Linked DNA regions of Homo sapiens: regions 1 and 2 are each linked to region 3. A link means that fine-mapping ties the variant in region 3 to the expression of a gene that starts in the linked region. Tissue or cell type: tibial artery. Region 3 holds a variant in brackets; each other region holds the start of a gene. All regions are shown on one strand. Distances are between the middles of the regions.

The links. PIP is the estimated chance that this variant, and not a neighbour inherited with it, causes the effect.
Region 1: it holds the start of TACC2, and the variant in region 3 is fine-mapped to the expression of TACC2 in tibial artery (GTEx, PIP above 0.99). The same link has a PIP of 0.9 or more in aorta, breast, coronary artery, subcutaneous fat, tibial nerve and visceral fat.
Region 2: BTBD16 starts here. The variant in region 3 is fine-mapped to the expression of BTBD16 in tibial artery (GTEx, PIP 0.98).

What each region holds. Positions count from the first base shown.
Region 1 is chr10:121,985,230-121,993,138 of GRCh38, forward strand. It overlaps TACC2 (transforming acidic coiled-coil containing protein 2), which reads left to right and starts at 3,934. Exons shown (of 23, transcript NM_206862.4): 1 at 3,934-4,259.
Region 2 is chr10:122,266,999-122,274,907 of GRCh38, forward strand. It overlaps BTBD16 (BTB domain containing 16), which reads left to right and starts at 4,298. Exons shown (of 16, transcript NM_144587.5): 1 at 4,298-4,516. RefSeq lists an enhancer at 1,192-1,693.
Region 3 is chr10:122,095,764-122,103,672 of GRCh38, forward strand. All of the region lies in intron 5 of TACC2 (transforming acidic coiled-coil containing protein 2), which reads left to right. Among named protein-coding and RNA genes, the nearest start is that of TACC2, 110 kb to the left of the region's middle. The variant T/C (reference allele first, on the strand shown) is at 3,446.

The DNA.
Region 1 (7,909 bases), 110 kb before region 3:
TTTCTTTTCTTTTTTCTTTCTTTTTTTTTTTTTTTTTTTTTTTTGAGACAGAGTCTTGCTCTGTCTCCCAGGCTGGAGTGCAGTGGCGTGATCTTGGCTACCGCAACCTCCACCTCCCGAGTTCAAGCAATTCTTCTGCCTCAGCCTCCCGAGTAGCTGGGACTACAGGCACCCACTGCCACACCCAGCTAATTTCTGTATTTTTAGTAGAGATAGGGTTTCACCATGTTGACCAGGCTGGTCTTGAACTCCTGACCTCAGGCGATCTGCCTGTCTTGGCCTCTGAAAGTGCTAGGATTACAGACGTGAGCCACTATGCCTGGCTCTCCTTTTTTTTTCCCCTAGAGATCTCCATCCCAGGGCCCTGTGTCTGCCCACTTCAATTTGGATGAGCTGTTATTCCAGTCTTGCTACACAGTTGTCACCATGGGGTTTCCCTTTACTGCCATCCTTGGTTAAACTCATTGCTTTCTGGATTCCATGTTTAAAACTTTTGTTTCGTTTATGCCCTGGTTTTGCTGAGGTATTTTCTTAGAAGAGATGTAAAGCAAGCTAGTTTTATGAGTCTAAAAAATGTCTTTATTTTTCTTTTCCATTTAGTTGAAGATTTGACTGGATATAGAATTTTGAGCTGAAACTAATTTTTCATCAGGAATTTAAAAGCATTGTTCCATTGTCTGCCTGAAATGGATTCTTTCTTTTTTTTTTTTTTGAGATGGAGTCTCACTTTTGTCACCCAGGCTCTAGTGCAATAGTGTGATCTCGGCTCACTGCAACTTCCGCCTCCCAGGTTCAAGCAATTCTCCTGCCTCAGCTTCCCGAGTAGCTGGGATTACAGGTACGGGTCGCCATGCCTGGCTAAGTTTTGTATTTTTAGTAGAGATGGGGTTTCATCATGTTGGCCAGGCTGGTCTCAAACTCCTGACCTCAGGTGATCTGCCCGCCGCGGCCTCCCAAAGTGCTGGGATTCCAGGCATGAACCATCATGCCCAGCCAAGATTCTGATCCAGCATTCACTCAACAAACATTCCAAGTATGTTCTAGGCACTAATGATACAGGTGCTCCCTGTAAATTCTTCATAAGTTAAAAGTATTGTAAGTTGAAAATGCATTTAACACACCTAACCTACTGAACATAGGGATATGGGAGTTAAGAAGAAATTACTTGGGCAGATAGTGAGGGTACGGAAGTCCTTGGTAAGGCTTTTATCCTTAATGAAAAGCAGCCCCAAATTGTTTTTTAACAAAGAGCAGCCTATAAAGTTGAGCTGCAGATATAAACAAGCAAGCTGGGAGCTTGCACAGGTGAATGCCGGCAGGAGCTAGGGACTATATGTGTTCAAGATGGTGGCTCTGTCTTCCTTTCTCTTTGTCGACCACCATACAATGTATTAAAGAGCAGTCAAGATAGTGCTGATCAACTGGAGAGTCCATTTACATAATAAGATTAGGGTGGGGCAGCCAGTCTTCCTCGCGGGCTATGTAAATGTCATACCTGATGGTACCAATCTATGAGGTCTGCGTAAATCAGACACCACCTTTTCCAGCCTGCCTATAAAATCTGCTGCGGTCCGCCGCCTCCCGTTTTGGACTTCTCTCTCTCTCCTTTCTTCTATTAAGTTTTCTACTTCTTAACCCACCCACGTGTGTCTGTGTCCTGAATTCTTTCTCATTGTGAGACAAGGAACCCCAGCATAAATACTCTAGACAATGTAGCTGTTAAAGTAGCATAGCCTAGCCTACCTAAAACGTGCTGAGAACACTTGCATTAGCCTACAGTTGGGCAAAATCACCTAACACAAAGCCTAGTTTGTGACAAAGTGTTGAATCTCATAGAATTTATTGAATACTGTACTGAATTTGAAAAACAGAATAGTTGTTTGAATACTCAAAGTACAGTTTCTGCTGAATGCATTCTCTCTTTTGAGCCATCTTATGATAAATCTACATCAAATTATTGTTATGTTAGGGAAGGAAACTGCCTTTGCAGAACTGACAGTAACAGAAATGTGACATGGTTGACTTCATCTTGCTTCTGACCTCCAAGCTGTCCTTGGTTATTCCTGGGCATAGGCCAAGCTAACTTTGGGAGGAATTCAATTTATAGTTTAATTTGAAAGTAAAGATTATAATAGTCCCTCCCTAAAACTAACCCCCTCCTTTCTCAGGGACCAAAATCGCCTTTGTAAGACTAATGAAAGGCCACAGGAATAGGATAATGGGAGAAGGCAGAACTCTGCTAAAATGTAGGCATAGTTTCTATAGTCCCTTAATGCCCAGGGGTCATGTGGCCAGAGTTCACAAGATCTGTGACTTTCCCAATTGCTCCTGTAAGTAACATCACTATTGTAGAACTTAAGATTGGGGTGTTTGTTTGTTTGTTTGTTTTTGTATTTTTAGTAGAGACGGGGTTTCACCATCTTGGCCAGGCTGGTCTCGAACTCCTGATCTTGTGATCCACCCACCTGGGCCTCCCAAAGTGCTGGGATTACAGGCGTGAGCCACCGCGCCCAGCCAAGATTGAGTTTTTTAAGATGTTTTTCAGACTGACCTCACTCAGACTCATGACTCATGACTCAACAGGTCCTGGGGCCCCACCCAGAGGCAGACTCAGTGCATGAGGACTGCTTTCCACACCGGTATGATTTCATCCCCAACCAATCAGCGGCACTATCCCCCTACCCCCTGACAACCAAATTGTCCATAAAAACCCTTGTTCCGAGCCTACAGGGAGACTGATCTGAGGGATAACTCCAGTTCTCCCACGTGGGCTCAGCCTCGCGGCAGTTAAACTCTTTCTCTATTGCAATGCCATGGTCTCAGTGAATTGATTTTTGTCTGTGCAGTGGGGAAGAAGAACTTGTTGGGTGGCTCCAGAACCATCTGTATAATGATGAATAAGACAAAGTCCCTACTCTCATGGAGGAGACAGATAATAAAGAAAAGAAAAAAAAAGGATTTGGTCATTGTAAGTGCTATGAAGAATTTAAATAGGCTAAAGGGATAGGTGGAGAATAGAAGTTGCATTTTTTCTTTCCCTCCAGATAGAGTCTCACTCTGTCACCCAGGCTGGAGTGCAGTGGTGCGATCTTGGCTCACTGCAACCTCCACCTCTGGGTTCAGGCAGTTCTCCTGCCTTAGCCTCCTAAATAGCTGGGATAGCAGGCACCTGCCACCACGCCCGGCTAATTTTTGTCTTTTTAGTAGAGAGGGGGTTTTACCATGTTCGCCAGGCTGGTCTTGAACTCCTAACCTCAAGTAATCCACCCACCTCGGCCTCCCAAAGTGCTGGGATCACAGGCATGAGTCACTGTGCCCGACCTGAAAGTTGCTATTTTAGGTGTGATGAGCAGCACAACATCTTTCCTGAGGAGGTGACATTTGAGATGTGACTTGAATTGTGAGGAGTAATGTGTCATGCAAAAATACAGGGAAGTCATATTGTAGTCAAAGGCAATAGCAAAAAAAAGTCTTTGGGGTTAAAATAAGTCTGACACATTCAAGAAAGTTCAGAAAGGCATACATACCTGTGTTAGAGTAGGTAGCTAGGGGAACATGAGAAGGGCAGCAGAGGGCATTCCACCCCCACCCCCAACCAGGAATGTCAGGCGACCATCATGTGATGGTCAGGTGGTTGTTACACTGTTTCTCTAAAATCATCATTGGTTGCAGCCAGCACCAGGGAAAGGCCGGCTCCCAATAGATAGAAAACACCTGAAGCTAGTGTCAGCCGCTTCCTGATAAGATCTCAGGAGTTGGGCAAGTGGGCTCAAGCATGGGCCCTAAGGGGCAAAATGTCAGAGTTTAACTAATATATGACCTTCCTCTAGGAATTCTCGACTGGCAAGGGAAAAATGCCTCAAATGAGCACGCGCACAACTTCAGTAAACACACTGTGAGTGCGGCCACTCCCAAGTGCTGGCAGACCACTGCATAAGTGGACAGCCTGCTCCAAGGGAAGGATCAGGAGAGAAGAAACGCAAATCCCAGAACCGTGCCAACATATAAAACCCCACATTAAGGGTTGTACAGTGCACTGGGATTTCTCAAGTCACCCGCTTGGTCCTCTTCCAAGTATACTTTACTTCCTTTCATTCCTCTCTAAAACTTTTTTAAAAACTTTCACTCCTGCTCTAAAAGTTATCTTGGTTTCTTACTCTACCTTATGCCCCTTGGGCGAATTTTTTCCTCTGAGGAGGGAAGAATAGAGTTGCTGCTGCAGACACATCAGATTCCCTACTGGTAACAGCTGGAGTGCGGTAAGTAAGGAGGAGAGGGCTGGAAAATGAAGTTGGCTCTGATTCCCATTACTTGAAAATACAGGGTAGGAAAACCCTATCTTCTTAGGTTCAGTGGCTGGGGAGCACCATCACTCAAGGTGAGAACTGCCTGGCTGAGCCCAGCCAACTCACAGAACTGTATGAGGTATTTTCATCTACTGTGCTAGGCACCTAGTGAGAGCCCTTTTGCGTCTTTCAACTTTGGAAAAAATTATGATTTATTTTTATTTTTTAAATTAATTTTATTTTTTTTTTTTATGTTTTTAGAGATAGGTTCTTACTCTGTCATCCAAGCCAGAGTGCGGTGGCATGATCATGGCTCACTGTAGCCCAGAACTACTGGGCTCAAGTGATTCTCCTGCCTCAGCTTCCCAAGCAGCTGGTACCACAAGCACATGCCAGCATGTGCAGCATGGGAAATATTTTTATGTTACCACCTCGACACTTTCTTCCTTCTACTTTTCTGTGTCATGTCTGCATCTCCCGTCACTTAGATAGGGACCTCACAGTTTGATTCTCCAGACCTTTAATATTTTTTCATATTTTAAATATTTCTTTAATTCTGTTTTTTGAGATATTTTATTAAATTTACCTTCAACCTTCTGTGGATTTTTTTTTTTAGACAGGGTCTTGCTCTACTGCCCAGGCTGGAGTGCAGTGGCATAATGATGGTTCATTGCAGCCTCGACCTCCCGGGCTAACGCAATCCTCCCACCAGGAGCAATCCTCTCAAGTAGTTGGAACTACAGGTGCATGCCACTAAATTCAGCTAATATTTTTTATTTTTTATAGAGATGGGGGTCTCGCCGTGTTGGCCAGGCTGGTCTCAAACCCCTAGGCTCAAGTGATCCTCCTGCCTCAGCCTCCCAAAGTGCTGGGATTATAGGTATGAGCCACCAAACACTGCCAGAATTTTAAATATCAGGATATAGGAAAGGTTTTGCTTTCGTTTTCAATTTTGTTTTTGTCTTATGGCACGGGGCCAGGCAGGGCAAAGGGTAGATTCCATTGACACTTATTTTTAATTTTCTGCCCAAGTACGTTCCCACCATTGTTCCTGGTGTTTCAGACCCTCTCCAGGGTCTGCAGAGTCTTGTTTGGCTGGAGCCCCTTCTACTCTAGTCTAATGCCCCTCTGCCCTAATTCCTCAACTACCAGGCCGTCACTGCTTTCCATTACCCACAACCATGGAGAAAGCTCTCATCAGCTAATGTGCCTTCTCCAGTTTGCCACATTATTACATTATTGTCTGGACATACCTGTTTTTTTGTTGTTGTTGTTTGTTTGTTTGTTTTTGAGACAGGGACTCGCTGTGTTACCCAGGCTGGAGTGTAGTGTTGCCTTCTCGGCTCACTGCAACCTCTGCCTCCCAGGTTCACTCGATTCTCCTGCCTCAGCCCCCTGAGTAGCTGGGATTACAGGCACCTGCCACCACGCCCAGCTAATTTTTGTATTTTTAGTAGAGATGATTTTGCCATATTGGCCAGGCTGGTTTCAAACTCCTGACCTCAAGTGATCCACCTGTCTCAGCCTCCCAAAGTACTGGAATTACAGGTATGAGCCACTACGCCTCATCTGGACCTACTTGTTTTTAAAAATGCCTTTGTTATCATTTTAATGAAGTCTCTTAAAGGAAAGGAGTTGCATTTGTGTGTTCTGTCTTCTTCAGTAAAGAGAGGGCTTTTATTTATTTATTTTATGTATGGAGATAAATGAACCTTAAACATTGTATATTTTTATTTTTATAAATCCACCTGTTTACTGTCATTTCAAACATTACTTTAAATTTATTTTCCCCTCAGAGCTTTTAAATAATCAGGAGCTCTAAGCATTGCCTGGGAAATGTTTTGTTTTCTTTGCGCTGTCCGCCACATGCTAGTGATTTTCAGCAAGGTTGTGTTTACGTGTATTTCAACTGGGCAAATAGGAACTAATATGAAATAAAATAACATTAATCAAACCTGACTTTATGAGCAAGTTTTGAAATAGTTCACATCTCAAATTAAAAATAAGTCTTTTTTGCTAATTAATGAATGAATGTTTTGGTCAAGAATCATTTCAAAGCTGAGCAGCTGAGTGAATGATAGAAACTGCACTCACACTGTTGCTGTATGGTGGCACCATCTCAGCCGGTATACAGAGATGTCTGCAGGTTTTCATCAGGATCATGGGAACTGCACTGTTGTTTACAGACATTGGAACTCTGACTTGTGACTTTAGTGTAATTTAAAACTTTTTTATATCTCAAAGCCATTTGCATTAGTCCATTTTCATGCTGCCGATAAAGACATGCCCAAGATGGGCAATTTACACAGGAAGAAGGTTTAATGGACTCACAGTTCCGTGTGGCTGGGGAGGCCTCATAATCATGGCAGGAGGCAAGGAGGAGCAAGTCACATCTTACATGGATGACAGCAGGCAAAGAAAGAGCTTGTGCAGGGAAACTCCCCTTATAAAATCATCAGATTTCGTGAGACTTATTCACTATCATGAGAACAACATGGGAAAGACCTGCCCCCATGATTCAATTACCTCCCACCAGGTCCTTCCTGCAACAAGTGGGAATTTAAGATGAGATCCGGGTGGGGACACAGCCAAACTGCATCACCATTTCACCCACGTTTTATGTGTTGGTGCTAGTGGGAGTACTAAAAAACTGTTCCCAGATCAATAAACTGGGAACAAAAGTGAGAAGTGGTAGAAAGCTGTGAAGAAGGCCCAGAACAGCCCACCCTGATATGCCAGGCTGTTCTTTTGGAAGAAAGCAGTTTGTACACAAGAGAGGTGATGCTGAGAAAGTGAAAAACCTGAAGGTTTTAAGAGCCGAAAAAGTGCTAATGTGAAAACACGCCACATGGTTTTATGTAGGGGCCCCTTTACTTTAATGCTTTTTCCAACAGGAAAATTTGACTTAAGTTATTTGAGTGCAGAATTACACAAGAACTTCAAGAAAAGTTATAAAATGTAATTGCACAGAACAACTCAGTTCTAGAATAGGGATTTTCCATTTTTGGAGGGCTTTTATGTACATCATCATGATTAAGTCATGCTGGGCCTATGAAGAAGGTGGAGTGTGGGATCATTCTCTTTTTCTGCCTGATGAAATGGAAGTGCTTAGTGCTTGGGCAATTGATCCAAGTCACTGCTAGAAAATAGGTGAATTGGTTGGGCATGGTGGCTTACGCCTGTAATCCTAGCATTTTAGGAGGCCAAGGAGGGTGGATTGCCTGAGCTCAGGAGTTTGAGACCAGCCTGGGCAACACGGCGAAACCCCGTCTCTACTAAAATACAAAAAATTAGCCAGGCGTGGCAGTGGGCACCTGTAGTCCCAGCTACTCCAGAGGCTGAGGCAGGAGAATTGCTAGAACCTGGGAGGCAGAGGTTGCAGTGAGCCAAGATCGTGCCACTGCACTCCAGCCTGGGCAACAGAGTGAGACTGTCTCTAAAAAAAAAAAAAAAGAAAGAAAAAATAGCTGAATCGAGACTTAGCATCCAGCCTTCAGAACCCTCATTCAAAACTCTCTGGGAAGCTAGGCATGGTAGCTCACACCTGTAATCCCAGCACTTTGGGAGGCCAAGGCGGAAGGATCCCTTGAGCCAAGAGTTCAAGAACAGACTGGGCAATGTTG
Region 2 (7,909 bases), 170 kb after region 3:
TGAGCCACCGTGCCCGGTCTTATTCTGTTCTGTTCTTTTCTTTTCCTTCTCTTTCTCTTTCTGTCTCTCTCTTTCTTTCTTTCTTTCTTCTTTTTTTTTTTGAGATGGAGTTTCACTCTTGTTGCCCAGGCTGGAGTGCAATGGCATGATTTCAGCTCGTTGTAACCTCCGCCTCCTGGGTTCAAGCGATTCTCCTGCCTCAGCCTCCTGAGCAGCTGGGATTACAGGCAGGCGCCACCACACCTGGCTAATTTTGTATTTTTAGTAGAGACGGGGTTTCTCCATGTTGATCAGGCTGGTCTCGAACTCCCGACCTCAGGTGATCTGCCCACCTCAGCCTCCCAAAGTGCTGGGATTACAGGCATGAGTCACCGTGCCTGACTGTGTTCTCCTTTCTTATCACTGAGATCAGCTGTGTTGCCATATAGGACTCAGTTCCAGGGCAGGACCCTTTGCTTCCTCCTGGAAGCCCCTGTCTGTCTGCTGGCTCATGCAAGGCCTCCGCCAGGGGCTGGTCTGGATGCAGCACTCCCAGCAGCAGCCTGGACCCTGGCTGGGTGCACTGGGGCTCTCAGGCACAGACTGTCCAATCTTCCAGGCCAACTGAGGCTCCGGATTTTCTTTTTTCATCAATAGAGGTTAAGGATGTGTCCAGGGTCACACAGCTATAGCCAGTCAGAACCAGGTCAGAATTGGGTGTTCTTTTCAGTGTACTCCACCACCTCCCCATATGGGTGACTGGATGGAGTGGGCTGAAATGGGCTCTCTGGCAAGGTAATGAGCTCCCCATCCCTGAGTGTGCAAGAAGAAGATGGATATCCCTTCATAATCCCCCTGGAACTGTGACACAGGAGATTTTGGCATAAGGTATTTCCAGCTAAGGGCAGTGCTCAGCGACATTTGATGTCTGAGTCACTGATGACCTTTGCTCTTCAGATTTCCAGCTTGTTGGCTGCTTCATGGGCTGGGCCCAAGGGGCTCAGTTACTGACACCATCAGGAAAGGGCTCTCAGGGAAACATGCTGAAAGCTATTTCCATTTATTTGTATTTGCTGCCTTTGACTTTGGACAGTAGCTCAGCTCCTGGGAGATCTGTGGGGGATGTATGTGTTGAGAGTTCTGGGGGTGAGCTGAAGGCCCCGGATCCTTGAACTAGACCCTGCAGAAAGCGATGGATTCAGCCAAGGCCAGGGTTCTGCCTAGGGGCTGATGGGAGCGTGGCATCCTGGGACGCTTCCCCAGAGTGGCCACTAGAGGGGGCCCGCTCTCAGCTGCACTCTAGAAGTGATACCTGGAGGGCATCCCTAGGTTGGCCCATGGTGGAGCAGGTGGGATGTCAAGCTGGTCCAGGGTAATAATGTCTTTCAAACTTGTTAATTGAAATCTTACATGGGGTCCCACATTCCAGGGACAGTTAGCAGGGAAAACTTTGGGGTGGAGGGGAAGGAGCAGCGTAGAGAGAGGAAATCTGTCCATTTGTACACAGACTTCTGCTCAGCCCCTCTCCGCCCCCATGTTCTTGGCACCGGGCTAGGAGGGAAGCCATGGACCAGACTCGAGGGGGAGTGGAGAGCAACATGATGGTCGGGGAAGAGAGAAGGTGCACAGCAGCTGTGTGTGCACAGCCATGCGTGGGTGCCTGGATGAGCCTCTGTCACTGCCCCGGAGGGGAGCTCAGCCTGATGGGTGGGCTGCACCTCCAGCTGCCGCATGTCCAGCAGAAGGGGCTGGTTACCCTAATCCCCATCTGCCTCTGCATCAAGAGGCACAGCATCCATGGTGAAACTGTCTCTACTAAAAATACAAAAATTAGCCAGGTGTTGTGGCAGGCGCCTGTAATCCCAGCTACTGGGGAGGCTGAGGCAGGAGAATCATTTGAACCCGGGAGGCGGAGGTTGCATTGAGCCGAGATTGCGCCACTGCACTCCAGCTTGGGGGACAAGAGCGAGACTTCGTCTCAAAAAAAAAGCACAGTGTCGCCATTAACAGTCATGTACAAAAATGCAGGAGAAAGCGTCTAACACTTAGTGAACAACTCATGTTAAAGAGTACAGTAGGACCGCATTTTCAAAAATGTGTGTATACATACAAAATGTCAATGTACTATTAATGGTGCTGAATTCGGCTGTGGAATCCAAATGATTTTTATTGTTAAGAATTTTTGCCTCTGAATTTGTGCCTGTAAATGCATTGCGTTTGTAAAAGGAAAATAAATTAACAACAAGTGTTTGTTTTTCAAGCATGAGAGAGGGCCCACACCTGGCTCAGGAATGCAGCCTCGGCCTCTGGCTCCTGAGGCCCCTGCAACAGTTGTTAGAGGCCTGCTTCCGGTCTCATGCTGCCCCTGAGCGTCTAGGGATGGTGGGCAGACCCTGAACTGGGTTCCTAACCCCCCTGTCTAAGACATGCCAGTGTCTTCAGCCCCTTGTCGCCTACATTCTTCTCCCACTGGTTCTCTCATTGTGCACGTCCCTCCCTACCTCCTGATCTCCAGAAGAGCTAGGCTGAGAGGTGAGCACCAGTGGACTCCTTTGGGCCCCACCTCAAATCCTGTCTGCAGCACCAGCTGCTGCTGCTGCTACTAAACACCAAAAGCCTGACAATCAGCTGCTTCTCCAACCCGGTGGCAGTTGCTGGGATCAGTTGTATACTACCATGAAACCCTGTCGTCTCACTCTCAAACCCAAAATCCAAGGCACAACCAAGAGACATCGCTCTAAGCTGAAGTGCACCTCTGGAAGCTACTAGAACAGCCAAAGATGCTCTTAACACACGTGCATACATGGATGCAATTGCAAATGAGGACATAGGTGGGTACAAACACCAGGGCCATGTTCGTACTCAAACACAGAAGCAGACACACACACCTATGCATACATAATCACATGTGCACACTTATGCATGTGGCACTCAAGCAGGTACACAGGCAGAGTGGTGGTTATGGACTAGGACATCCAATTACCCAATTCCAGAGATGTTTATTGAGCACTTTCTAAAGTCCAAGTTTGGTTGCTGGGCTCTGGGGATGCAGAGATGGGTAAGCCACTCACAGAACATTCCACAGCGATCGGCTTCTGTGCAAAGCAGAATATGGTGTTGGGAGGAGTAGAATCACAGGATTTGAGGGCTGAGGCGGGAGACAAATTCAGGGGTACCTCCCATTTATAGAGTGTTTCGTAGTTTCTAGATCACAGCCACAGGAGGCAGCGCAGCTACTTTCCCGTTTTACTTTAGGATGTATGTGGCCTAGGAGAGGCTGGCCTTGGGTCTTAAAAGCTGTACTGCCTCCTGGTTCCTATTACTGTAACTAGGGATTTCTGTGATCCCTGGGGTGGTGGTCCAGGCCTTTGATGGACCCGTGGTGACCCATGTGACTCTGACCCACATGGCCTCCACCTCCCCATCCCCTAGTTTGGGTCATGGGCTTCACAGGCCACGTCGCTGAGGACACTGTAAGATTGCACTTAGGGCCAGGTGCGGTGGCTCACACCTGTAATCTCAGCACTTTGGGAGGCCGAGGTGGGCAGATCACCTGAGGTCAGGAGTTCGAGACCAGCCTGGCTAATATGGTGAAACCCTGTCTCTACTAAAAATACAAAAATTAGGCCGGTGTGGTGGCGGGCACCTGTGATCCCAGCTATTCAGGAGGCTGAGGCACAAGAATTGCTTGAACCCGGTGAACCTAGGAGGCGGAGGTTGCAGTGAGTCAAGATCACACCACTGCACTCCAGCCTGGGCGATAGAGTGAGACTCCATCTCAGAGAAAAAAAAAAAGCAAAACAAAACAAACAAATCCCAAACATTTCCACTCTGGATGCCAGCTTGAAGGCTCTTGGTCTTGTCCTTGACTTTTAGGCAGTCCTTAGCTCCCAGAGAGAGCAGCATTAAAAATCATCATCAGCAAAGTACTTCATTAGGCATAGCTTTTAATAATGCGGAATGCTCAATTTTTATTGAAATATGTTTGTCAAAACACAGATAGAAAATGCTAGAAATAGAGCACCCCAGAATGCCAGAGCTGGGAGGCATCTGAGAAGCTTCTAGTCTAATCTTCTCCTTTGACAGATGAAGCCTGAAGATTTGGGGGTTGGTTCTCACTGAGGCTGTGCCCTGGGTTGCCCCAGGTGCTGTGAGGAACAGGAATGGAGGCACATGGCACCCACACTGGTCTCTGAGATGCCATCACTCACAGCTTCTCCCCATCAGCCAGGGCCTTGGACACAGCCCGAGCCTGAGTTGAAACCTGGCCCTGGAACAGGAAGTGCTTGGAAGCTTCCCTGCCGTTGCCGTGGTGCTCACAACCACCCAGGAAACCAAGGCAAGCTCCCCCTGTCAAAGCACCTTGGCCCATAAGAAGAAAAGGGGGAGCCCCAGATGTGATGAGCGCTTCCAGGCTTCAGGCTCAGAAGGCGCCCCCAGCTCTCCTGTAACTCAGAGGCCAGTGTGATGGGAGTTCCTCCACTCAGCACACTTCCCCTGTAAACACGCCTGTGGTGGGCAAAAGGGCTTTGGAACGGTAAGTACAATGGGTATTTTTCAGCCACTTCAGAGACCAAGAAATGTGTCCTAGTGACAGGTGCTGTCTTAGCACCTGTCTAGACCCAGTGTTAGACTTGGGTGCCTCTGGTCTACTTGGCAGGGAGGGAGTTTAGGGAATCAGGAGGGGTCTGGGAGCTGAGAGACCATTGTAGGTAGCTCCTGCCCGCCCACAGGGACCTTGGCACAGGCTCTCAAAACACACGAAGGGGCAGATTGCCTGGTGGGATGAAAAAAGAACACATTTCCAGGCCATTGAGATGTCTCTGGATTTCAAGATCAGCTAAAAAAGTTCTTAGATATTGATCTAAGAAAGCAGGAGCTTTGGGTAGCTGAGTGCAAACCCCAGCCTCCCTCTCTCTGTAACTGAAGCGGTGCTCTGTGGGCATAGCGAGTCCCGTGTGGGGTTTATTCTGTGCTGACCAGGTCTGCTTTAGAATGGAACCCTCTTCTCTCTTCTCAGATTCCTTAAGGCCACGTTGAGGATTTGGGGGTCTATGTCTAGGGCAGTGGGAAGCTGGTGAAGGGCTTTAAGCTGAGGAGTTCATCATCCTGGCTCCTGTGAGGTAAAGGGATCAGAAAAGCATGTATGTGTTACCTGAGGTGGGAGAAGCCTCACGCAAGGTGGAAACTCAGCCATCAAGGAAAACACACATTGCTGTAAACTCAAGTGCACCTCTGAAAGCTGGTTGAACAGCCAAAGATGCTCTTAACACACATGCATACATGGATGCAATTGCAGATGAAGACACCAGCAGCTGGGTACAAACACCAGGGCCATGTTTGTACCCAGACACGTTTCTTTTTCTTTTTTCTTTCCCCTCGAGACAGAGTTTCGCTCTTGTTTCCCAGGCTGGAGTGCAATGGTGAGAGTTTGGCTCACTGCAACCTCCACCTCCAGAGTTCAAGTGACTGTCCTGCCTCAGCCTCCCAAGTAGCTGGGATTACAGGCATGCGCCACCACACCCAGCTAATTTTGTATTTTTAGTAGAGACAAGGTTTCATCATATTGGTTAGGCTGGTCTTGAACTCCTGACCTCAGGTGATCCACCTGCCTTGGCCTCCCAAAGTGCTGGGATTACAGGCATGAGCCACTGGGCCTGGCCCCAGATATGTTTTCAAATTAGAGACTGGCAAAGGAAATACACACACACACACACACACACACACACAGGACATATTTTCATACTAATGAAACAATTTGTTTACCATAAACAAAGTCAAAAGACAAATGATACACTTCTGCAGCATGTATGGCAGACAAAATGTTAGTGTCCCCAGTACATAGAGGGCTCCTTAAAAAATGCTAGTGAGACTACAGTAACCCAGTAGAAAATTGCGGAAAACCTATGATTAGGCAGTTTTCAGAAAAGAAAAATTAAACAGCCAATAAATAGATAAAAGAATGCTCAACCCCACTGGTAGCCAGGAAAGTTCAAATTAAAGTAAGAATCTGAAACCATCTGACACTCACCAGCTTGGCAAAAATAAATACGATGATACTACCTAGTACTAAAGATGTTGTGAAAAAAATGACAACACTTATAAATTGGTGATAGGAATGTTAATTGCTGCAATTTTGGGGCAAGTGAATTGGTATTAACTATTTCAATTGAAGATACAGATCTCTGACATAACTATACCACTTGGAAGACTATTTCATAGAAATAAAAACAGCAACACAAAGATATATATATATATATATATATATACACACATACATACATATATATACAGATGCAGATATAGGTAACATGTATAGATATATGTATACACACATGTACACAAACTGCCATAATAATGTGTATGCATATTGTTCCCATTGTTTTTATTATGGGAATAAAATATAGGAAATAACCTCAATGACTTGGCAGAGGAATATTTTAATAAATAATGATGCATTCACTGTATGAAATATTATGCGGCCAGAAACAGTGTCTCATGCCCATAATCCTGGCACTTTGGGAGGCCAAGGCAGGAGGATTGCTTGATATCAGGAGTTCAAGACCAGTCTGGGCAATATAGATCAGTCTGGGCAACCCTGGCTCTAGAAAAATTAAAAAATTAGCCAGGTGTGGTAGCGGACACCTGTAGTCCCAGCTACTGGGGAGGCTGAAGTGGGAGGATCACTTGAGCCCAGAAGATTGAGGCTGCAGTGAGCCTTTATCACACCACTGCACTCCAGCCTGGGCAACAGAGCAAGACCCTGTCTCAAAAAAAGAAAAAGTGATATTATGCAGCTATGTTAAATTTTTCTTTCCTGTCATTGTATTGGTTCACTAGTTACAACAAGCATATATTATTAATACTTTTGCAATTAAAAAGTCCAATTAAGGCAATTAAAAGGCAAAGAAAAACCTGTCTGCCCAAGTGGAATGGAAATTCTATGAGGCAAGGATCGTGTGCATTTTGCTCACTGCTGTCTCTCAGAAACGGCTAACGCCTCTCTCCATATGGCGACTGCACAGGAGATGCTTGTTGGTGAATGGATGAACATAGCCATGGCTGTGATGCAGGTGAAGTGCTGTTTGGGGAGCAAAGGGAGGTCAGCTGAGGTTCTTGGTCATCAAGTGCCGTGGCTTCTGCTGGTTTCACCAGCTCACCCACTTCTCCTCTTCTCTGATGTTGCTCTGGGGAACTACCCAGTCCCCAGTGCACGTTCTTGTTGGGAGAATTAGTCAAGGTGTCTGCCCTCAGGGGCCAAAGAGTGGGCCCCTGAGCTAAGCCAGGCCAGTTGGGGCCTCTTGCTGAGAATCTGGATTGAAAAGAACCCTGCATAGATGGACTGTGGGAGAGCCGACTCATGCTGGAGGCAGCGCCTGACAACAACAGCCACCAACTCCTGGTGCGTGCCACCCAGGTCCCTGCAGCTGCTTCCTGTTCTTTCCCGGAGAGTTCTCCAGTTTCCTTTTGAGTCTATGAGACCCTCCTCTCATCACCATCCTTCCAATCAATCTTAACCTCCCCGCAACCCCATAATCAAATGGGTTTCTGTTGCTTGTAACCCAACAGCCCTGATAATGTTCAGAGATAACTGGAAAGTCCTTGCACTCTTCCTCTTTCATGACCCTGTAAGCTAGGGTGACCATCAGTCTACAGAGCTCCAGGGCAGCCCTGGCCTACAGCCATTGTCCAGGCCTAATTATTAATATCATCCCTTTAGTCTCCTCGTCTGAATGATCAATTATGTGATCAGCCTACTTATAGCTATCTTTTGGTCTTCCTCACTTTGGCAAAGGATTATCTTCTGTTTTGCTTTATCTGAGCCACTTTCCCAGAACAATAGCAGAGATCTCTCTATTCACCTGCTTACAAAAAAAACAAAAAACAAAACCAAACAAAAAACCCCAGCAACAACAAGATATTCTCTTGA
Region 3 (7,909 bases):
GTGGTGGGAATGTCCTGTGTCTCCACTCTCCAATACAGTCGCTGCTGGCCACAGGCTGCTAGCGAGCACTTGAAATGAGGCTGGTGCCACTAAGGAACCAAATTGTTAATTTTGTTTAATTTCAACTAATTGAAATTTATAGTGAAATACCCACATGGGGCTGTGGCTTCCACACAGGACAACCCAACTGGAAGCCACTGTGTCTTTGCATTACGTCAGAGGCTAATCCTTGCCATCAGAGCCAGTGGGTGTGGTGAGGCTCTGTGTGTGAGGCCCTGGACATTTCTCAAGCACCTGCTGGTGCTCGGTGAGTATTAGGCGCCCCTTCCTCCCGCTGGCTGGCTCTGTAAGTGGGGAGACCAAGTGGTTGTGTCTCTAGAATGGAGGCTGAGGTGTGTTCGTGGCACATCTGCCCAGTAATGCGGATCAGCAGGAGGTGTCTTTCCTGCACCCAAGGAGGCCTCCCATTGCACCTGGGGGCTTGGCTTCACCTATGTGACCTCACATCCAGGCCTGCGCACCCGTATCTGAGCTGGCATTGTAAGAAGCCCTGGATGGCCCCATGAACTGGCTCCTGACAGCAGCGCTTGTGGCAAACCCTCCCTGCCCACAAACCCCCCGGTGGCCACACCTACAAGAGTGCCCCTTACCGGCCAGGCGCGGTGGCTCACGCCTATAATCCCAGCACTTTGGGAGGCCGAGGCTGGTGGATCATCTGAGGTCAGGAGCTCAAGACCAGCCTGACCAACATGGTAAAACCCTGTCTCTACTAAAAATACAAAATTCGCTGGGCAGGGTGGTGCATGCCTATAATCCCAGCTACACAGGAGGCTGAGGTGGGAGAATCACCTGAACCCAGGAGGCAGAGGTTGCAGTGAACTGAGATCGCGCCATTGCACTCCAGCCTGGGCGACAGAGCAAAACTCCGTCTCAAAAAAAAAAAAAAAAAGACTGCCCCTCACCAGACTGGGAGGGAGCCCAAATGGGCAGACATGTGGTTTTTCCACTGATGTCTCTGCACTGTTCTTGTCCCGAAAACCTGGCAGGATGAGGAACAGGCCCCAGCTTACAGCATCTCAGCCCCTTCTTTCTTCTCTGCTTTCTTAATGCCTGTTAGTCCAGTGTTAAATATTTTAGCAGCCTGATGACTCAGATGTAGACTGTGAAAGTGTTTCTTTTTCCAGGGAAGGCACTGGAACAGGTCTAGTTACTGATGCTCTTAATGCCCTTTCCTTTTGCAAGCCTGGCCGAGGGTGTTTAGGAATAAAAACTTGCCTGGTTGCTGGGCACGGTGGCTCATGCCTATAATCTCAGCACTTTGAGAGGCTGAGGTGGGAGGATTGCTTGAGCCCAGGAGTTAGAGACCAGCTTGGGCAACATAGTGAGACTCCATCTCTACAAAAAGAAAAAGAAAAATTAGCGTGGTGTGGTGGTACATGCCTGTGGTCCCAGCTATTCAGGAGGCTGAGGTGGGAGGATCGCTTGAGCCCAGGAGGTCGAGGCTGCAGTGAGCCAAGGTCATACCACTGTACTCCTGGGTACAGCCTGGGTGACAGAGTGAGGTACTGTCTCAAAGAAAAGGAGGAAGAAGAAAAAGAAGAAGAGTTGGAGGAGGAGAAGGAGGAGAAAAGAAGAAAGAAGAAGAAACTCAGGGGAAGGGAGTCTATGTCCCGAGAGAGGGCAGGGTGCGCCTAGCAAGGACCCCAATGCACAGTGGATTTGGGTCAGCACTCAGTTTTCAGGCCAGGAGTACACTCGGTGGGAGAAGAGCGGGGCTCTGAAGTGGCCCCAGGGGACGGGGAGGGCCCTGGGAGTAGGAGGGAGGAGAAATGAGGCTGAGGATGAGATCAAGCTGGAGGCTAGGGTTGGTAGGCGGCCGGAGTTTAAATCCTGGCTCCCACTGGAGGGGTGATGCTGGGTGCTATTAGGACTGCCCCAAGCCTCAGCTTCTTTGCAGGTAAATGGGGCTGACAATGTCTCCTGGGGGTAAAGGAGGGTTACAGTGGGGAGAAGATGAGATGAGACACGGCACACCCGACACAAAGTCAGCTTGCAGTGGAGACTTCGTGGACAAGGTCCCTGAGCTGCAGGGGGGCTTCTGGGCAACTCCATCCCCACAGCCAGCTCAGCAGCCACCCAGCAAATGTGCACCCAAGCCAGGCACTTGGAAGGAGAAGCCGAGGGCTCTCTCACCGGGGAAGAGCTGAGATGGGCTTTCAGGACACGCTGGGTACACGCTCCTCTGCTAGAAAGAGGTTTGGGGTAAATGGTTAGGTGGGTAGGTAGGTAGGTTGATGTGGGGCAGGTGAGTGACAGATGTGGTTTGTTGACTCCCAGCCCAGGGCCCAGCACACACGTGAGGAGTCAGCTGTTCACGGGCTCCTGTCTGCTCGCTATGTACCCTGTAGGATCAGGAAGTTGGACATCATGATCCTAGGTTGTCTTTCTAGAAATGTTTGCATGGATATGTTTGTGGCCATTTTGATAGAGAGCTGGTCTTGGCCTCTGGCTAAGAGAATAAGCTATGATCTTGTTTCTTGGAGAATGTTAGATTTGCAGGGCATGGCTCTTGGTTACCCAGCACCTGATACCTTGCATGAGGCACCTTAGGCGCTGCATACGTGTTTGCTACATAATTCAACACAACTAGCTATCAGGTGAGTCTGAGGGTTCCTGTCCTGAAAAACGAGGTCAGACAGCACTTTGGAGGCAGGTGGCTGCGTCTAACTCACGGCTCTGCTATTAGACTCTTTACCCTCGAGCAAGTTCCTTAGCCACCCTAAGTTTCTTGCCTGAAAGATGTGTATAATGCTAGGGTCCACCACAGAGAGTTATGTAAAAAATAACGTGTGAAAAGCTTAGCAAAGTGCCCACCTGGCATGCAGTAAGCACTGAGGTACCAGAGGTTACTGTTTTTATTGCTACTATCATTAATATTACCATCATCACTTAAATGATGATAAGACTATTCTTAAGGTAGATTAATGGTAGGTACCTGTGTTTTTACACACGGGCTCATAGAGTTCACGTACATCTGGCCTGGATTTGTTGGAATGTGCCACTACCCTCTAATGCTTCTTCTCGTCCTGTAGCCTCAGCCTCCCAATGGGGGTGGCTCTCCGTGTTGCAATATTGTATAGGATGCGAAGTGGAGCCATCTGGCACCCGTGGGGAATGCATTCCCTTCCTTGTGGAATCTAGGGCTTTGGGGTTAACCTCTTGCCAGGAGCGGCTGCAGAGAGGCTGCAAGCTAACATTAGTGGGTGGGAGTACGCCTGTGTGGTGAGCCTGGCTGTGCTGAGCACATCTCATGGGACAAACCGCCTCGACAATTTTGGCATGATATTTTGAGCTGTGAGCCCATTCCAAACCCCTAGAGGAAAGGGCAGGGTGAAAAGTCATCTGGCCCTGCCTGCCAGACGCCATAACATAATAGCTGGAGGAG[T/C]AGACTGTTCCTGGCAAGTGACGAAGCAGCTGGTATTGAAACATACACATGGCCAGAGTTGGCAGACTGAGAATTTGGAGCAGAGTGTGAGTGCCGAGCCTGGGCTTAAGTCTCAACCCCAGACCAGACTGCCTTTCCAGGCCACCTATGAAGGATGGCTGGGCAGATGCTCCTCTGGCACCTGAGGCTGGGTAGCAGCGAAGCTCACCTTTGAGATGAGGTACCACCTCATGCCTGGCTTGGGCATTCATAGTCATTCATAGTCTCCTTCTGACACACTCAGCTGGAAGGAGATAAAACTCCAGTTTCAGCAGAACGTTCTCCTGTTGAACTCTAATCTGAGTCTGTCCTCCCCAGCAGCATCCACATACTTCCCAAATTGTGGTGAATTAAAGAAGCTGCAAGCACTGGCCCAACTGGCTTTTGCTGGTGGTTTTTCGGCAACCCTCCTGCAAATGCTGTCAGCCAAGCAAAGGAAAGCCAGGGCCACAAAGCACAGAGGCTACAGCTTAACTCAGCTTAACTCTGTTTCTTTACAAGTGGGCTATAAATTTGTGGGAGATAAAACGACTTAATGATCACTGCAGGGTTTAGTTTTGTTTTTTCAAGAAGATGGGAAGCTTATGTGTTAGGAACTACCAGGCTTCTGTTGAAGTGTTGTGTATACCTCTCATTTAGTTCATATTTTATCTTCAATGGAGAGGATTCTGTAAAAATGGAATGTAGAAAATTGCCTCTCCTGGGGTGACACTTTTGCTTTCAGAAACTCTTTGGGGCTGGGCACAGTGGCTGACGCCTGTAATCCCAGCACTTTGGGAGGCCAAGGCAGGAGGATCACCTGAGGTCAGGAGTTTGAGACCAGCCTGGCCAACAAGGCGAAACTCCGTCTCTACTAAAAATACAAAATTAGCCAAGCGTGGTGGCGTGCGCCTGTAGTCCCTGCTGCTCGGGAGGCTGAGACAGGAGAATCGTTTGAACTTGGGAGGCGGAGCTTGCAGTGAGCCGAGATCGTGCCATTGCACTCCAGCCTGGGCAACAGAGCGAGACTCTGTCTCAAAAAAAAAAAAAAAGAAACTCTCTTTGCATTCTGCATTTGGGGACTGTGACTGAGTCTAAGAGGAAAGCTGTAACTCTTCCCTGCTCCTTTCTGAGAAGGAAAGGTCCTGAAAAGCCACTGGCTCTAAGGTCTAACAAAGGCCATTTTGTGTCTTCTCTTCCTTTTTTTTTTTTTTTGAGATGGAGTCTTGCTGTGTTGGCCAGGCTGGAGTGCAGTGGCCCGATCTTAGCTCACTGCAACCTCCACCTCCTGGGTTCAAGCAGCTCTCCTGCCTCATCCTCCCAAGTGTCTGGGATTACAGGCACGCACCACCACACCTGACTAACTGTTTTGTATTGTTAGTACAGACGGGGTTTCACCATGTGGGCCAGGCTGGTTTCGAACTCCTGACCTCAAGTGATCTGCCCGCCTCAGCCTCCCAAAGTGCTGGGATTACAGGCATGAGCTATAGCGCCCGACTGTTGTCTTCTCTTCTTAACCCCTTTTCCTTTGGTATAAAAATGTGGAGAAAGGTGTAAGTGCAGAAGCAGGCCCAGACTGTAAAGACATAAGAGGCAGGAACTCCAGTGTGGCTGAGAGATGTTGGCCAGACCCATGTGCCCATGTCTCTGGGTGACCCCTCTGCCTGCCTTGCCCCTCCCTCTACTTGTAGCCTGTGATGGGACCACATTCTGGTTCAAGAGGCTCAGACAAACGTTGTTCTGTGAAGCCTTCCCGACCCTTCCACTCCCCAGGAGTACCCCTACCTCCCACCAGAGTAGCGAGGTTCCTTTCTGTAGCCTGACAATAATTTTAAGACAGGGGCAAGTGTATTACAGTTTGGTGAATCAGATTTTCTCATTTGCAGAAGAGATTGGGTGTTTTGAGCTGGACAGATCTGGGTTCAAATCTGCTGCTTATTCATTGTAGGACATTTGTCATATTAGTCTCATGAGGTCTCAGTTTCCTCACCTGCAAAATGAGTATAAAATTAATACTTACCTCATGAGGATTCAGTGAAATAGTGCACTGGAAATGCTTGACCAGAGCTGGCACATGTATCACCCAAGGAACATCTATCACTATTGGAAGGAGTCCCCTGCAATGGCAGGGACTGTGCCTGGTCCCCAGTCCTTAGCACAGTGGGCTGCACATAGTAGCCCCTCAACAAATGTTTGTAGAATGATTGTGTTTAGCTGGGCAGGGTGGCTCACACCTATAATCCAGCACTTTGGGAGGCCAAGGCTGGAGGATCACTTGAGTTCAGGAGTTCGAGACCAGCCTGGGCAACATGGCAAAACCCCATCTTTTTTTTTTTTTTTTTTTTTTTTTTGAGACAGAATCTTGCTCTGTCGCCCAGGCTGGAGTGCAGTGGTGTGATCTCGGCTCACTGCAAGCTCCGCCTCCTGGGTTCATGCCATTCTCCTGCCTCAGGCTCCCAAGTAGCTGGGACTACAGGTGCCTGCCACCATGCCCAGCTTTTTTTTTTTTTTTTTTTTTTGTATTTTTAGTAGAGATGGAGTTTCACCGTGTTAGCCAGGATGGTCTCGATCTCCTGACCTTGTGATCTGCCTGCCTTGGCCTCCCGAAGTGCTGGGATTACAGGCGTGAGCTACCACACCCAGCCAACCCCATCCTTTTTTTAAAAAAAAGAAAAAAGAAAAAGGCAGAGTCTCAGGTGCTTACCCGAGGCCTGCTGAGTTGGAATCTTTACAGTCATGCATTGCTTAATGATGGGGAGCTGCTCTGTGAAATGCATTGTTGGGCGATTTCATCATTGTGCAAACATCATAAAGTGTGCTTACGCAGACCTAGACGGTATTGCCTACTACAAGGTACTGTGTGACGCTTCACCCGTCGGTTTGGGCAGTTTATGGGCCACCCTTTAAGTAGCAAGGGGTCTGGGGCACTCTTCTCAACATTGGCTGCACACTGAAAACTCCCACAGAGCTTAAAAAAAATATTGATGCCTAGATGCCACCCCCAGAGCTTCCGGTTTAATGGATATGCGGGTGTAGCCTGGGGGTAGTACATTTTCAAAGTTCGCCAGGTATTTCTACACAACACGGAACAGCTGGCCTAAGGCCTGCAGAAGCAGATCAAACCAACTCGGCTCTCAGATGCTTCTTTGTTGCAGCATAAGACATCTACATCATCAAGCCCACTGCATAGGCTGAACTGAACCCCGTAACCGCGCCTCACTCCTGGCCCTGCCAAACCCTCACACTACTGCGGCTGATCCATCAAATAGTTTATTTTTCACCTTTGCCCTGATGTCACTTGGACATCTGACTGTCTCCTAGAGAAAGTTGTTTTTCTGCCAGAGAAGGTACAGCAGGCAGGGCATTGCTTCCTATTTAGTCGAAGGCTTATTTTAAATTGGGACTAGGCCAAGTTCAAGTGCAGGAGCACACTGGCCCCTGGGAGAGCCTGGCCAGGTACATTTGGCTTGTGAGACCAGCCGTCAGCACTTTGGCTCATGGAACACACGTCTGTCCGAGCAGTGCAGACCTGGCTTGTGTGAACTGGGCTCTGTGTGCCCTCAGGGAAAATGCCGAGGCCACATCTAGAAATTCTGGCTGAGGCTGAGAGCCGTGTGCAGAGCTGCCCCCACACATTTCCTTGTGTATATTTTGGGTTCAGGCTGACATTTCCTCTTAGCATGGGTGGAGGTAATGGCTGAATTTTTAGGAGGCTTGAATCCCTTCTACAAATATGCCTCCTCGCCCTGTAACCAAGTTTTGCTGGGTTGCAGTTCAGGAATGTATCTTGCTGCTTGTACAGCCCATCATGGAATGTGAGGACTTAGCTCAGAAGACTAAAGCACTATTCCTTCTAGGAAAAAGAAAAAAAAAGAAAGAAAGAAGGAAAGTTCCTCAGAGTTCACCAGTGAAATGGATCTTATGAGTGTGAGGGCTGAATTCCTATGATATGGCTGGGTTCCTCATGTCATATTCCCCTCCTGACATGTCTAGAGTATATAAGAAATAACCCACAGTTTAGCTGTGGTCACTGTAGACTGGTTAGGAGTTTGAGTTCTGCACACACAGAGCCTATGTATGAACCGTGGCACTGCTCAGTGTGGCCTCCGGGTGAGTTCACCACTCAAAGCCTGCTTCCTCCATTGCCAGCTAAGGACAACAGCAGTACCTGCTGCATAGGCTCATTAAGAGAATTAAGGCAGAGAAGAGATGGGAGCCACTTAGCAGAGGGCCATCTTTGTGACCAGTGCTCACAAATGGTGCATAATATTATTGTGGTTATTTTAGAAAAGCTTTTAAATTACCTTTTTGGTGTTCTTTTACCAGTTATTAAGTGGGGGAGGCACACTGCAAGTTGGCATGTGGATGGCATTTTGCCACTCTTCAAAGCTGGCAGATGATGGGGTCATCTTCTAGGCCCCACATACCCTTTCAGTTTGAATTCTT